4 linked regions of the Homo sapiens genome follow. The protein of the gene in region 2 purifies or fractionates together with the protein of the main gene of each other region. This does not show direct contact. Each region holds a gene or a part of one and is shown on either strand. Other genes may lie near its edges.

The links. The genes of interacting proteins can lie anywhere in the genome.
Region 1: the proteins of C5orf24 (region 2) and SNX18 purify together in Homo sapiens (affinity purification with mass spectrometry; one large-scale study listed by BioGRID and IntAct). This does not show direct contact.
Region 3: the proteins of C5orf24 (region 2) and PBX1 purify together in Homo sapiens (affinity purification with mass spectrometry; 2 studies listed by BioGRID and IntAct, with this or other methods). This does not show direct contact.
Region 4: the proteins of C5orf24 (region 2) and MEIS1 purify together in Homo sapiens (affinity purification with mass spectrometry; 2 studies listed by BioGRID and IntAct, with this or other methods). This does not show direct contact.

What each region holds. Positions count from the first base shown.
Region 1 is NC_000005.10:54,544,423-54,547,086, forward strand, and holds the end of SNX18 (sorting nexin-18), read left to right. Parts: 3' UTR 1-2,164; downstream 2,165-2,664.
Region 2 is NC_000005.10:134,855,968-134,860,235, forward strand, and holds the end of C5orf24 (UPF0461 protein C5orf24), read left to right. Parts: 3' UTR 1-1,389; coding exon of another isoform or gene 1,390-1,430; 3' UTR 1,431-3,768; downstream 3,769-4,268.
Region 3 is NC_000001.11:164,810,684-164,814,183, forward strand, and holds part of PBX1 (pre-B-cell leukemia transcription factor 1), read left to right. Parts: intron 1-1,306; coding exon 1,307-1,466; intron 1,467-3,500. UniProt on the Homo sapiens protein: Transcription factor which binds the DNA sequence 5'-TGATTGAT-3' as part of a heterodimer with HOX proteins such as HOXA1, HOXA5, HOXB7 and HOXB8. Binds to the DNA sequence 5'-TGATTGAC-3' in complex with a nuclear factor which is not a class I HOX protein.
Region 4 is NC_000002.12:66,511,625-66,515,124, forward strand, and holds part of MEIS1 (homeobox protein Meis1), read left to right. Parts: intron 1-524; coding exon 525-670; intron 671-3,500. UniProt on the Homo sapiens protein: Acts as a transcriptional regulator of PAX6. Acts as a transcriptional activator of PF4 in complex with PBX1 or PBX2. Required for hematopoiesis, megakaryocyte lineage development and vascular patterning.

The DNA.
Region 1 (2,664 bases), about 80 Mb from region 2:
CTACACTGTTAACTGATTGAGACTCCACTGTGATTCACTTGTTTACTTAAAAACTTTTCAGGGATGTCTGTAAATTTCAGTGTTAATATGTCATGAAAAGTGGTGTGGATTGATCTAAGGAGGGACCAGAAATAATTTTTGCTATTCCAAATACTGAAGGAAAAAGATAATTGATTTATACTATGTTTTAAAAAAAAAAAAGGTATTGATGAGCCCCCCCCCCCCAGGACATTTAACCTTAAAATTTATTTTAAATGTATTCTTTTATTATTATAAGGGAAATACAGATGGCTGATAAATACCAAAAAGATTCAAAAGCAGCTTAATTTAAAAAGCACAAAGAGATTCTGGCTTACAGTGCCCCAATCTCAATGTTTTTATAGTTGCTGAGCTAACTAATGTGATTATTGAGTTTACAGATTTAAAAATTGTCACTGTTAGAGTATCTACTGTTTTTATGAAGTCAAACTTATGCTGCCTCAGAAATCCCTGGGTACTGAAATGGTAACATGGAAGTGAAGAGGTCACTTTGAAATATTGGTGAGTCACAAAGATTAAAGAAAAGGATCAGTTTGCAGATACTCAGAAAAGGTTATTGAAATAATTACTGAACAGCACATTTTCTCTCTAAAAAGTAGTTTCATATGGGTTGTATTTTTAAGATCAGATTATCATTTTGATATTTGGTCAAAATTTTGTACCTTAGGTTACTTAGAGCCAGATTTAACATCATGAACATTATGTGGCTTTGTCTTTACTACAGATATGTGGAACTGTAACCAAATATGTTGTCTCTAAAACTTGTTGATTGCAAAATACAGTTCTATAAACAAAACCCATATGTATATATAAATGTTAATTTTGCGGAAGTCTGGAAATTATAACTATAGCATTTAAGTTTGAGTCTGTATTGGACAAATAAGCACCATGCTTTTCAAATGATTTAAAAATTACTTTTATTTGCCTCTTTATTTTGATGGTGGTTGGATTTTTTTTTTTTTAATAGTAAAATCACTAAACTTGTGCAATGGTAGCATGGAAATTATCTGAGGTATATTGTATGATTGTACTTTAGCCAGGGTGGACATAGCTTAAATTATAAAAACTAAAGATGAAAGTACAAGGAAGTATAAGTTATACTTATGTAAGTATAAATTCATGCTGCCTACTTCTAAGAGAAATTTCATTCTTCATAACCACATAACATTATAATGCCACTGATTCATACGGGATTTACATTAATTCTATGGGGGAGGACACTAGAATTATTAGTGTTCATTTTCATCTAAGATCTTTATTCTCTAACGTTCTTGGTCCTATTGAAACATTGCAGTATGCAAAACTACTGCAATGTTAAACCCAAGAGAAAAGCCATTATCATGTGTATGCTGGTCATCATGATCAGTGTGGTACAATTTTTAAAAATAAACTATCATGCCCTTCATGCCATTATTTGTCTTTATTTCTATGATTTATAATCCTGATATGTGATGTGTTTGTAACACAGGGTGTGCACTTGAGCCTGGTTTTACTGTTTTTATTAGACAGAGTTGTTTATATGCTGTAACTGTAACGCAGCGAGACTGGTTCTACAGCCATGTGTCGTAATCTTGTTCCCCGTCCAAGCTGTTGTATCTGAAGGTACCCAGTTTGCACCCAGGATGAGGGAACGCATTCAAAAGTGAAATGTAAAGCCAGTGCACGAATATTATAGTAATTGAGATTTTCCCAGGCTTCACTGATACAGTTGTTTTGCATTTATTCACAATAATACAGCAGATTCTTAAATGCCGATTTTTAATTGTCTTAAATTTTGCTGCTGTTCTCATAATTAAGGACTTGAAAAATGTTTTAGTCTGTCAAGTATGTAAAGTTTGTGTAAAAACTTTTAAATGTCATTCTTAAGTTCATTGCCATAGCCATTTTCCATTTATGTCTTCATTTTCCAAAAATCAAATGCCATGTCTGATACCTTTAAGTCCATAAGCATTCAATTTTCTCATTTCCACCTTCATCTTTGGTTAACAGAATAAGTAAAACAGGGTATTATTTATTTGTAGTCTAGAAATGTTGAATATTGTTTTATTTCCTTCAAAATGTTATGATTAGTGCAGATCAGCCATGTTTATCTTTTTAAAAAATAAACAGGTTGCTTTATTTCTTAGCTTCAATGGAATATAATTATTTTTTCTCCACTCATCAAGGAGGCATTTATTTAATGTGAAGAATTACACAGAAAAATAGAAGAGCATGTTCTGTCTTGAGCTTCATCTGCAGTTACCATAGAAATTATTCATCAAACACTGTAGCTAATTTGATTAATTTAAAACCATCATCATTCAGATAGTCCCATGGAGTATCTGCTTCCATTAGTGACATCAGGAATTAAGCACATAGCAGTAAGTTGTGAGTGAGAGGTTTTGAAATAATAGCTCCCATGAGTCCAATACCTGAGACAGAAGCAGGTGCTTAAGTAAAGTACTTGACATACTGTCTGTTGGTTGCCATAAATAGGCGAACTCCAACACACATAAGCCAAAATATAATAGCTACGGGACCTGGCATATCTTGCAAGGGGCCAAAGTCCCATTTGGCAAAGCTTGCCCTCTTTGTGGGGCTTTGTAGTCTTGTATCTGCTTATCTTTACAGATTTGTTTTACATAT
Region 2 (4,268 bases):
TTTGGCATTTACATCCACTTCAAATGTTAAAAAACTTATTTTTAATGTTTTAGGTTTAAGCAGCTTGTAATTTATTGATCTACATGGCATTAATTGATTTAACCATTATACCTGAAATAATTCTTCAGTGTTTGCCTTTGAGCAGTGATAGGTTGTGTATTTTTTAATTGCCTAAGAGCATATATACCAAACACTACAAACAATTCATATTTACAGAAAATTTAAACTATTTTATAAAAACTGCACATTACATTTTTGGTGAAATATAGTGCATTCTGAGGATAGCATATTTCATATAATAGAAAAAGAAGCATTCTCTAGGTTTGCATGTAGCTATAGTCACTATATTTTGCCTTTCATATAGAAAGTTTTAAAGTATTATGTTTAAAAACATTTATTGGCTGGGTGTGGTGGCTCACACCCAGCACTTTGGGAGGCCGAGGCAGGCGGATCACTTGAGGTCAGCAGTTCAAGACTAGCCTGGCCAACATGGTGAAACCCCATCTCTACTAAAAATATAAAAATTAGCCAGGCGTGGTGGCGGGCGCCTGTAATCCAAGCTACTGGGGAGGCTGAGGCAGGAGAATTGCTTAAATCCAGGAGGCGGAGGTTGCAGTGAGCCAAGATTGTGCCACTGCACTCCAGCCTGGGTGACAGAGTAAGACTCCGTCTCAAATAAATAAATAAATAAATAAATAAATAAATAAATAAATAAAACCATTTATTGATGTTGCTCATTTATTTGGAACGTTTTTAGTTTTTCTCAGAAATTGTCCCATTGCATTAGCACTTACTGTGTTTTCAGGTTGATATCTACCAAAGGACACAAATTGAATGGTAGACTGTAAAACTGGTATAAACAGAATGCAGTTTCCCGACCATCAGAACCCAAATATTAAGAAGCATATAGGAATCCATCTATGCATGAAACATGTAAAAAATATGTTGGTTAGTTTAATTAAAAATCTTATTGTGGGTCCAGTGAGACCATCTCATCCAAAAGATTTTTTTTCCCCCAATGATGTTTGCTTTAGAAGCAAGATAGAAAGGAAAAAAAGTATTAGGTAGATATGTATAGTAGGGACAGAGGGAAATCTTTCTTCTTTCCTTTCTGAAAGTAATACTTCTTGTTACACATTTTATTTATTGAGTTTGTTCTAAATAAAATATTATAAACTTCAGACTTGAAAAAATTCCACTTAACTTTAAAGTTACAATGTTTGTATTTGGGATTTTAAATGCCTTTGAGATTAAAATGTAGAATTGCAGGACCCAAAAACTTTTAAAATAATTAAAATTTTAAAAGAGCACATGTTGTGTTTTTTGGGCTTGCTATTAATGCAAACTCTGATTGCAAATGGATGTCATGTTTCATACCTTTTTTATCAGGAAAAAAGCAGCAAGCCTTCAGGTGTTCCAGTGATGCCTGACACAATTGAGCTGGACTTTATGCTGCTCTTTACAGTAAGAGGTGTTGCATTGTATGTGGGGACTATGTGCACTGGCGTCTAAGACAGTGACCTCAACAATATTAGCTTTGCACAAACCATAGAGAACGATGTTGGATGGTTACATAATCAGTTATAACATTCTGGCAGCTAAATTGCTACAAGAGCTTTTTCTTGCAAAAGCTTAAAATACAAGATTTTTAATAATTTACTCAGAACAGTATAACTTCTGACACACACAAATGCTTGCCTCTTTATTCATATGTTCGTTACCTACTCTGTACATGTATCTGTCATTTAGCTGTTTCTCAAGATGATGTTCAGCAGTTGGCTGCTTAGAAATCTTTTTCAAGCCAGTTTCTAAAGACATTTGTTTAATGTTCTACCATAGAATAATGCACACCATTGTCAAAGATTTGATTATTGTGTTTTATAGTAAGTCCATTTGACATTTATTTCCCTTTCAGTTTATTTTCCTTCCTTATTTTGTTATACATACCCTTCCCTTTCTCCCCTGCCTTTCGTACATTCATTCCTCTTCCTCTACCCTCCAGCACATCTACTTACTGGTGCTGTGCTGTGTGTCAGAAGATAAAACAGGTGTATTATTGTATAATGAATTTTGTATACATGTTTATGAAATGGTGAGATCAACTAAAGGAGGCATGTTCATAACAGTGTTTATTATCAGCAGCTATGTCCCAGGAAAAAAAAATGGGAGGGGCAAATGGCTACAGTTGTAAATGGATAACATCATTTAGAAAGCCGAATTTACTGTTCATCTGAGCGGTTACCTGGAGTATTATATCTATGCACTGGTGAGCATCTCCTGATTCCACTTACTTTTCTCCCTGTGAACAGTTTACCGGTGCCATGCTGAAGAGAAAGACATCTAAGTGATAACATGAATGAAGTCTTAAAATTTAAAGTATTTTTACTGCTATATAAACTAAAGACTACATTGTGCATATTTTGTTAACACTGTCTCTTGTTATGATAAACACTGAAATAGCATGTTAAACAGTTGCCTATACTTTAATATAATCAGTTGGGGAAAACTGGCCTTTTCTCCCCCACTGTATGATTGTTTCTTGAAAGGTAAATTGCTAATTTTATACAGTGTAATTCTGTTCTTCACAAAATAGGTTTCATTATTCTATATTTAAACTGTTGGTCAGAAAATGATCTGCAATTCAAGTAAGTCTGCATTACTTTTTTCTTTAAAAAGTACTTTAACATGCCTTATTTATTATATTAGCAAATGAGCTAATAACAGATGAAATTTTCATTTTTTGACAGATATAACCTTGCATAAGTAGTATTTAGGGTGATTTTGATACTATCTTTAGAGTTTTGCATTGGATATTAAAAAATATATTGGCACAATGTATTGGAAGAAAATGAGTAGTATCTGGTTTAATTTTTAATATTTAGGGACATTTTAAAAAATCAATGTTTTAATTAGACTAAAAATTCTTTATATTTTTTATTTACTTTTTAAAGAAACATCTGTCAAAGTAATATTGATTCCAAACTGATGTTTGTGTGAATTTACATGTCTATTTTCATGAACTAAGAATAGAGTTTCTTTGAGTTGAGGAGAAAAAAATATATATGTGGGTCCATTTATTAGGTTAAAGTTGACCCATTCAGTGTAAAAATAACCATAGTGTGTGAGCTAAAGAAAAAAAAAAGTAAATTTCTCCTTTATATTCTAAGAAGCTTTAAAAGAACAATTCAGGGGTTATTGATAACTGCTACTCTGTCGGTCATTGTCTCTATATGCAGTAAAATTTTATGGTCCCTTTATAGGAATATAAAGAATTCAAAACAGTTTTTCAAAAGATTTTTTTCCTTGGACATAAAAAATTTTGATGCTATTCTATTTTTGTTTTTATTACAGCTTAACTGTATGCTGTTAAACTCTAGGATGTATCTGAATCTTTCCTTTTTTCCCCCCTCCTCCAAATATATAAATCTGTGCTCTCACATGTAATGTATTTAATTTTTGGAAAATTTAATGCTATATAGTAAATCAAGTGTGTGATTTAAAGTAATCAGATCACTTTGATTCTTTTAAGTTTTCAGAATTTCTTTTTTCCACAGGTAATTTTGGAGAAAATAATTACCAATTAACTGATAATAAGCACGCTGTCCTCTGCTGTAAAAAGTCTGAATAGATACTGTGTATGTTTTTATGTCCATGAACTTGAGCTACTCGTGTGCAATTATGTGTATGGGAATGGAGTAGTGTTCATGATTTGTATCTACATCATCATATGGATGTATATTTATTAATAAAGTCATTACTTTAAAACCAGCTATGTTTACTATGTTTTTTAGTGTGGTACTTTTCAAGTACTTAAGTGGTAAATGGTAAACCTTTTTCATGACTGTAGATCTTGTGTTTTTCTTAGAATTTTGCTTTTTTTTTTTTCTTTTTTAAGACAGGGTCTCACTCTGTCACCCAGGCTGGAGTTCGGTGGCGTGATCATAGCTCACAGCAGCCTTAACCTTCTCGGCTCAAGCAGTCCTCCTACCTTCCCACCTCAGCCTCCCGAGTAGTTGGGACTACAGGTACCTGCCACCATGCCCAGCTAATTTTTTATTTTTTTATTTTTATTTTTATTTTTTTTGGAGACAGAGTCTCACTCTGTCTCCTAGGCTGGAGTGCAGTGGCGCGATCTCCGCTCACTGCAAACTCCGCCTCCCAGGTTCACGCCATTCTCCTGCCTCAGCCTCCTGAGTAGCCTGGATTACAGGCGCCCGCCACCACGCCTTAATTTTTTAATTTTTGTAGAGATGGGGTACCCTATGTTG
Region 3 (3,500 bases), on a different chromosome or scaffold from region 2:
AAAACATAAATTTCAAAGTGAAACTAGATATGCAGTGATCCTGAAATACACCCAAAAGTGTCCTTCCTCCTCCAGTTTACCTCTTTTTCTGTAGACATCAGTGTTTACAATAAATAAAGCATTTTCTTATTGAATTTTTTTCTTTTTTGTTTAATATTGTGGTGGTACAGACTGATTTTTTTTTAAAAAAGAAAGGCTTGGCATTTCTGCTGTAGTATAAACTGTATAAGCCTTTCAGTGCTATCCTTATAAGATGTTTTAAGTTTGTTAATGCGTTTAAAAAATTAAGTATAGTTTTGCAACAGTTTTCTTTATCTGCCGTCGTTGGGAGTTAAATATCAATGATATGTAAGCTGTGGTACATGTGGGATCAACTCCCCCTTCCCTCACCAGATTCATAGTTTGTTTTGTAATTATATAAAAACATCGACATTTTAGTTCAAAATCATATCTGGAATGTGGGATATAAAACTTTCCTTCCCCGGGCAGGAATTATGGGGGTAAAACTTGAATTTAACTGTGTCTCCACTTGTGTCTGGCAGAGGTCTTGGTATGAAGGGAGCAGAGGTACCAGATCAAGCCAAGACACCTGCTGCGAACCACATGAAGGAAATAAATTAACAAATGAAAGTAAATTAGGTTTATTGTGTCTGCTGGCTTTAACATTTAAACCCTAGAATTCAAGGGGATAATCATTTGTATGCTACAGTTTTTCCTTATGTAGATAACACTAAGCTTTACACAAAATAGTCAGTGAAATCTGGTAGATTGAATTATATTGATCCTAAGGTCTATAGTGAAATACAGCTAAGAATCTCAGTCCACATTAAAGTTATGTAACTTCTAAAAATTTGCAATTAATCTATCACACGAAAGCACCTATATGGACATTTAAAGATCTGTGTATCTTGATGGCATCAAGCCAGCTTTCACATTGATAAACGCTAGGGGCATTTCTCCTGAAATGTTAGGTATATTTTAGTGTCATAACTGAAGATGTAAGCAAATTTAAAATGCTTGCTCTAAATTAAAAGGGTTCTAGCTTAAATGAGCAGCTCCTTTATAGGAAGATTTTTGTCACAGTGGTTTCGCTAAATTTCAGTTATATTAAACAAGAGAATCGCATTTTATGTAGTTGTCCTTTTGAAGCTCTTACTTCAGATCTTTTTACTGATGTTGCCAAATTATTATAGGATAAGACCAATTAGCTTACCTCTTCACCTCTCCCATAAAGCCTTTTTTTTCTTCTGCAATGTTTCTGAAGGATGAAATGTGAACTTTCTCATCTTCTCTTAAACTACTCTAGGTATCAAACTGGTTTGGAAATAAGCGAATCCGGTACAAGAAGAACATAGGTAAATTTCAAGAGGAAGCCAATATTTATGCTGCCAAAACAGCTGTCACTGCTACCAATGTGTCAGCCCATGGAAGCCAAGCTAACTCGCCCTCAACTCCCAACTCGGCTGGTTAGTTTTTTCTTTGATTGGGGGTGGGGGAAGGAATTGTTCTCCATTTTTATACTGGCTGTTCCTACATTGGGATTTTCTTTTAATTTGTTAGGCTTTTGATTGGTTAATTTCTGTATTTGATTGTATTTTTGGATGTTAATGTCACTTTGGGCTCTTTCTTTCATTTCCAAAGAGCAATCTGTTAGACTTTTTACAACGTGGGTTGTCTGGAGGTTTGCATTAATTTGTCTATTAAGTTAAGACCAAAGTAAATTGGTTAGCTTGAAGAGACCTCTAAATTCTCCTCTCAGGGATATCAATAAGTAAGTTAGACATAGTGCTTAGAGATAGTCTATTGGGATTCTGTCATTTGGCCTGTTTTATATAAAGCTTTTATCCTTGTCAGTTTTGCTGTTCCAACAACATAATGTCTGGGTCACTTATTAGCATGCATTCTATGCAGAAATATTTACTCTTCTAGCAAATATCTTATTAGAATGCTTTGGTATGCAAAGCCAGGCTATGAATATTTCTATATATTGTTTATAGTTGTTGTTCTTTATTGTTTTTTGTTGGTCTTCTTTATGATTATCGGTCATGAGCTATGTAATAGGCTTTGTTTCAGGAAATATGCATTATATCACTAATTTAAGAGTTTAGGTCAAAATACTATATTTTGGGGTGTGCCTTGTGTCATCAGTTCAGAATTTCTACATGTGAAAAAATGTAGTTAATAATGCAAAAAATATAACCTTTGTGTTTGTATGCTATGGAAGGCATGTGGTAATTTTTTTTTCCCTTTGGTAAAGGAAAGACAAGTATTTTCTCATTAAATAAGTTTGGTTTGACTTTGATTAGGGTGCACAGCTAAGAAAACTGATGATTCTAACTTAAAAGGTTACCAATTTAAATATGTTTGATCGTAATATGATTACAAACCTAATGTCTAACATTTTTTAGAGTATGTGGTATCTTTGACCACAAAGCTTGTTTGTCCACTAAAATAAGTTTTCTTACAGCGACTCGTTACTGGAGAAATGTAGGGTTCCACAGACTGATGTCTTCTGTGAGCTTCCAGATGCATAAATTTGTTATGATAAGGTCCTCCAAGTCACTGGGCTATACCCAGCACTTCTTTTGTGGCCTTCTTTTATCTAAATGGAATCATGCATGAAGAGTAGCCTGGGCTTTTTCAACATGGATATAATAAAACAATGTAGAATTCAATCCAGTTTTAATTTTCCCAGCACTGCAGGTTAGATTCCTATGAGGAGCATATTTACTTTTTTAGAAATATTTTGTTTTTTTCTTCCTCCATCATGGTGTGATTGACAAGGGATCAAAGCTAACAGGTTCAATAACCAGAGAGAGTTCCATCTTCTCCATCTGGTCAATTATTAAGAATTTCAGACCCAACAACACCAGTTGAACTGTGCTGCTAGGCAGACATTTTCACTTGTCTCTTTGGAAGAAGTACAATTCTGTCAACATTAGCAAAAATGCACTCAACACTCCTGCAAAGGTTATCATAATGCAAAACGATATCAAAATGACTTTTTCCTGTCCCTGGTATATCTGCATCGCAGATGGCTTAGCATGATTTATGACTAGTCCTTAGAAAAGCCCTGTGGACTTTCTTCATTACTAAATTTGTAACTATTTATTCTTTCCTAAAGCCCTTAAAAGAGAAAAATAAGCATTTTAACCCTCTATTCTGTGTTTAAGAAATATGGTTGCCTCTTATGGAATGTCAGACTATGATTACAGTTTTCTAAGGAATTTTTTTCTGGTGGCTTAAACATCATGTGACTATTCTGAGCACAAAGTAAATTATTATGGAAAATTTGAGCTAAGCCTTCCAATTGTGCGTAAGTTGTTGGAAATAATCTGCACAGGAACCCCTTTGTAGTGCTTTTTCTAAAGTAGAGGCAAAAGAAAATACTATTGTATGTGTGCAATAGCATGGAATTTTAAAAGATAAACATTTTAACAGGAAAAGTTATAAATGGGCTTTTCTGTATTTTCTTTTGCTCTTAACCAACCTAAATCATC
Region 4 (3,500 bases), on a different chromosome or scaffold from region 2:
CTATGTCAAACTGCTTATATGATGGATTACCTACATTTCCCCATCCTAGTTTAACTAGTCTTAAGATAGATCACTTGTGGAAATAGTTGATATCTTAAATGAATCTTCTCACAAGTCAATGTCAATGACTGTGGGATTTGAATGCCCAGGCAGCCATAGCGCCACAGCTAATGACTGCCACCATGTTTAACTCCCCGGTAGGAGTTACACTTAACCTGTCTCAGCTATACATATTGGAATAATTACCATAGCAACAAAGCCACAAGGGGATTGGATATTTCCCTCCATTCCCTTTGACTTTTGGCAATGTTCTTTGGAAGAAGTTCTTTAGACCTGACTGCTCTTGAGCCTAGGCCTTGTTCTTTCTCTGTCTTGGAAAACAAAACACAACAAAAAAACAGTACCAAAGAAACTATTAATCATTTAAATTTGCTCTTTTGGTTTTGTTTATATCCAAAGGCATTCTATTTGAATAAAGCATGTCAAGGTAGCATCAGTCAAAATTTGATTCGCTATGTTTGCAGGTGATGGCTTGGACAACAGTGTAGCTTCCCCCAGCACAGGTGACGATGATGACCCTGATAAGGACAAAAAGCGTCACAAAAAGCGTGGCATCTTTCCCAAAGTAGCCACAAATATCATGAGGGCGTGGCTGTTCCAGCATCTAACAGTAAGTGGATTCTAAATGACATATATAAACTAAATATGGACAATGAACCAGTTTTTATACAAAAAAATGAGAAAAAAGTGATCCCTCTGGACTTGAAATATTTAATAAATAACTGTGTTCCCACAGTTTTTGCAAAAGTATTAGCACTTATTTCTTAGATAGATACCCCAAATGAGAAATTTTATTTAAAATTCACGATTGCGATTTTGTTAACTTTCATAAGTTAAAAGATTTAGGTGTTCATGTGCACTTGTGATTTTAAGTATGTGTTTTAATGATGTTGCTTTTCTAAGTGTGACCCTTAAGTGCTCAGAACCATCTCCTACTAAGAAGAAAGTTAGACAAACCCTAGAGAGAGACTTAATATCTTCTGATGCTTTAGTGGATCTTTACAACAAATGGTCCACAAAAATTTAAATCATGTTGCAATGGCAAGATGATCACATAATTTGCTTTTAAGTGGTTTGAATGCACTGGCTTCCATTACAAAACATTCATGTAAGTCAGAGCTCCACAGTGAAAGTTGTCCCTGTATTTAGAACTGTAAAGGAAAACAGCAATATAGAGTCAGCTCTTCCTGTGTAGTCCCTTGTGACTTTTCAAGCAGAGTAACAGTTTATATTGTCTGTGCCAGTATTGCTGTTTTCACTGCAGGAATTCTCCTGGAGATGTGAGAAACTGGAGATTTGGGGCTTTATGCCACTGGGGGATTTGTTTTGTTTGGTTATTGTTCTGAATGAATTTCATGTTCAAAATATTTATAATAATAATATTTTGGTGGATATTTTTGTAAGTGCATACCAATTTAAAGAAGAAGATACAATGAAGATTTGTGGATAAAATAATATTTTAAAAATCAACAAAATTGTTGACCAGAGGAATTTCAATATTAGAGACAAAGGATGAATTTAGACAGGTTGTAGCAAAGTTACATAGATGGATAAATGTTAAAAACTCTTGAGGGTTGTTTTTTAATATCAGGAGAAAATATTTTGTGTTACTATTTTTGTCTTAGCTTGCTTTTCCTAAAGTCAATTTTTCCTTAAATATTAAAGTTAATCTTGCATTGTCATAAACACTTGCAGAGCCTGTTTACCTTCATACCTGGGCCCACATTCAAAGCCATGTTCCTCAGTGAGTTTTACGGGTACAGAGATACAAACTCAGGGGATGTCTGCAGGTCATGTTAGTTCTGCTCCTCTGGATAGAGGCTGTGCCTCTAATAATACTCAAGGGTATAAATTAATCCAGATTTTCCAGCATCAGTGAATAAGATAAAAGCTGAGAGCAGCAGGAATAGCTAAAAAAAAAAAAAAGTTTCCTCCCTTCTCTTCTTCCCATAATAATTCCAAACAGTATCTAGACTACACTACAGTTTTTGAGTAAACTTCAGGGCTTGGCTATGCTGGAAATTAGTTGGAGATTTAGATTATTTGAGCTGTTTTGATTTTAACATCATATTAGGTTTACCTAGAATCTGATTCAGGCACCACTACTTATCTGACACCTGTTGCATGTGTGTAGATATTTCAATATCTGACTCCTGCAAATTCCCCACTGAGGATTATCAATCACTAATGAACTAGGGGAAAGAGGACTCAGGTCTTGAGGGCATATCATGAAAAACGAATGATATGACATTTAGATAAGAAGTGGCAATTGGTCAAAGGTGTGGTACAATGATGCTGATGCAATGATGCTAATATTTTATCTCCAGAAATAACCAGCTAACTCGCTGTGTGGAATGAGTTGGTGTGGTGGATAAAATCAGGTTGGCCCTGAAGTCACAATCAAATAATTTCTATTTCCTATAGACTAACAGAAACAATGAATAGATTTCTTCAGCCCCCATCTCAATCTGCAAAGGAGTTTTGGCTTTACTTGAAGCTGAGGTGCCCCTGAATAAAATATAATCAAATATTGGTTCAGACAGAATCAGGAGAGAGAGAAGCAAGCTATTTTATGCAGCCACTAGTTTTCCTGTTTTTCTAGGTTGTACCCTTGTGAAGACCCTTGCATAGAGCTACATTATCTTCTTGAAACAAACAAACAAACAAAAAACCCAAATAAACTTTCTAACAGCCCGCATGATTTTACATGCATTGCATTGCTTATATGGACTATGTGTTTGTTACTGGGGCAATTGTAATCGAAATTATTCATGAACTGCCTGATTTCTTGAGACCTAAATAATAGTCTTCAGTTTTGAGGTCTTTGCTGGCCTGTGCCACTGCCCTGGAAGGGGAAGCCCATTCATCCATGTTTCCCCAGCTTTCTGTGAATGTTTATAGGTGTTACCTTGTGGTTTCCATTGGATATTTCTACCTCCATTACCCACTCCAATGCCATCTGCTCATACAGAAATATTGATTAATGATAATGGTCTGTAGATAGCTAATTGTTCTTATAACATCATCTGAAGAGCAAAGTTAAGAGATATGTTTAAATTTTTCATCTTTTCCTTCCCCCAATGAAAAAGATTCCTTCCCACTTCTCTAATTGCAAGAGCAAATAGACCTCCAGCTATAAGGAACACCCGTTACCCTTGTTTTGTAATCCTTCTTGAAGGAATGCATGGACTGCTTAGGTAATATTTATAGTAAGGAGCTAATTTTAATAAATTCTATTTTAAAAACCTATAGAATCTAAAGAGAGTTTTGTTGTTGTTTGTCTAAATGTAAGTAACCACTGACATCTCAGTACTAATTCTTTAGTGACTTTATTTCAAGTTCTGGGAGGTCTTCAGGGATGCACAATTCATTAGGAAGACTGTACAAATTTTAAATGGTCACGTCATTGCTATGTGATTAATGCAACTTATCTAGGAAAT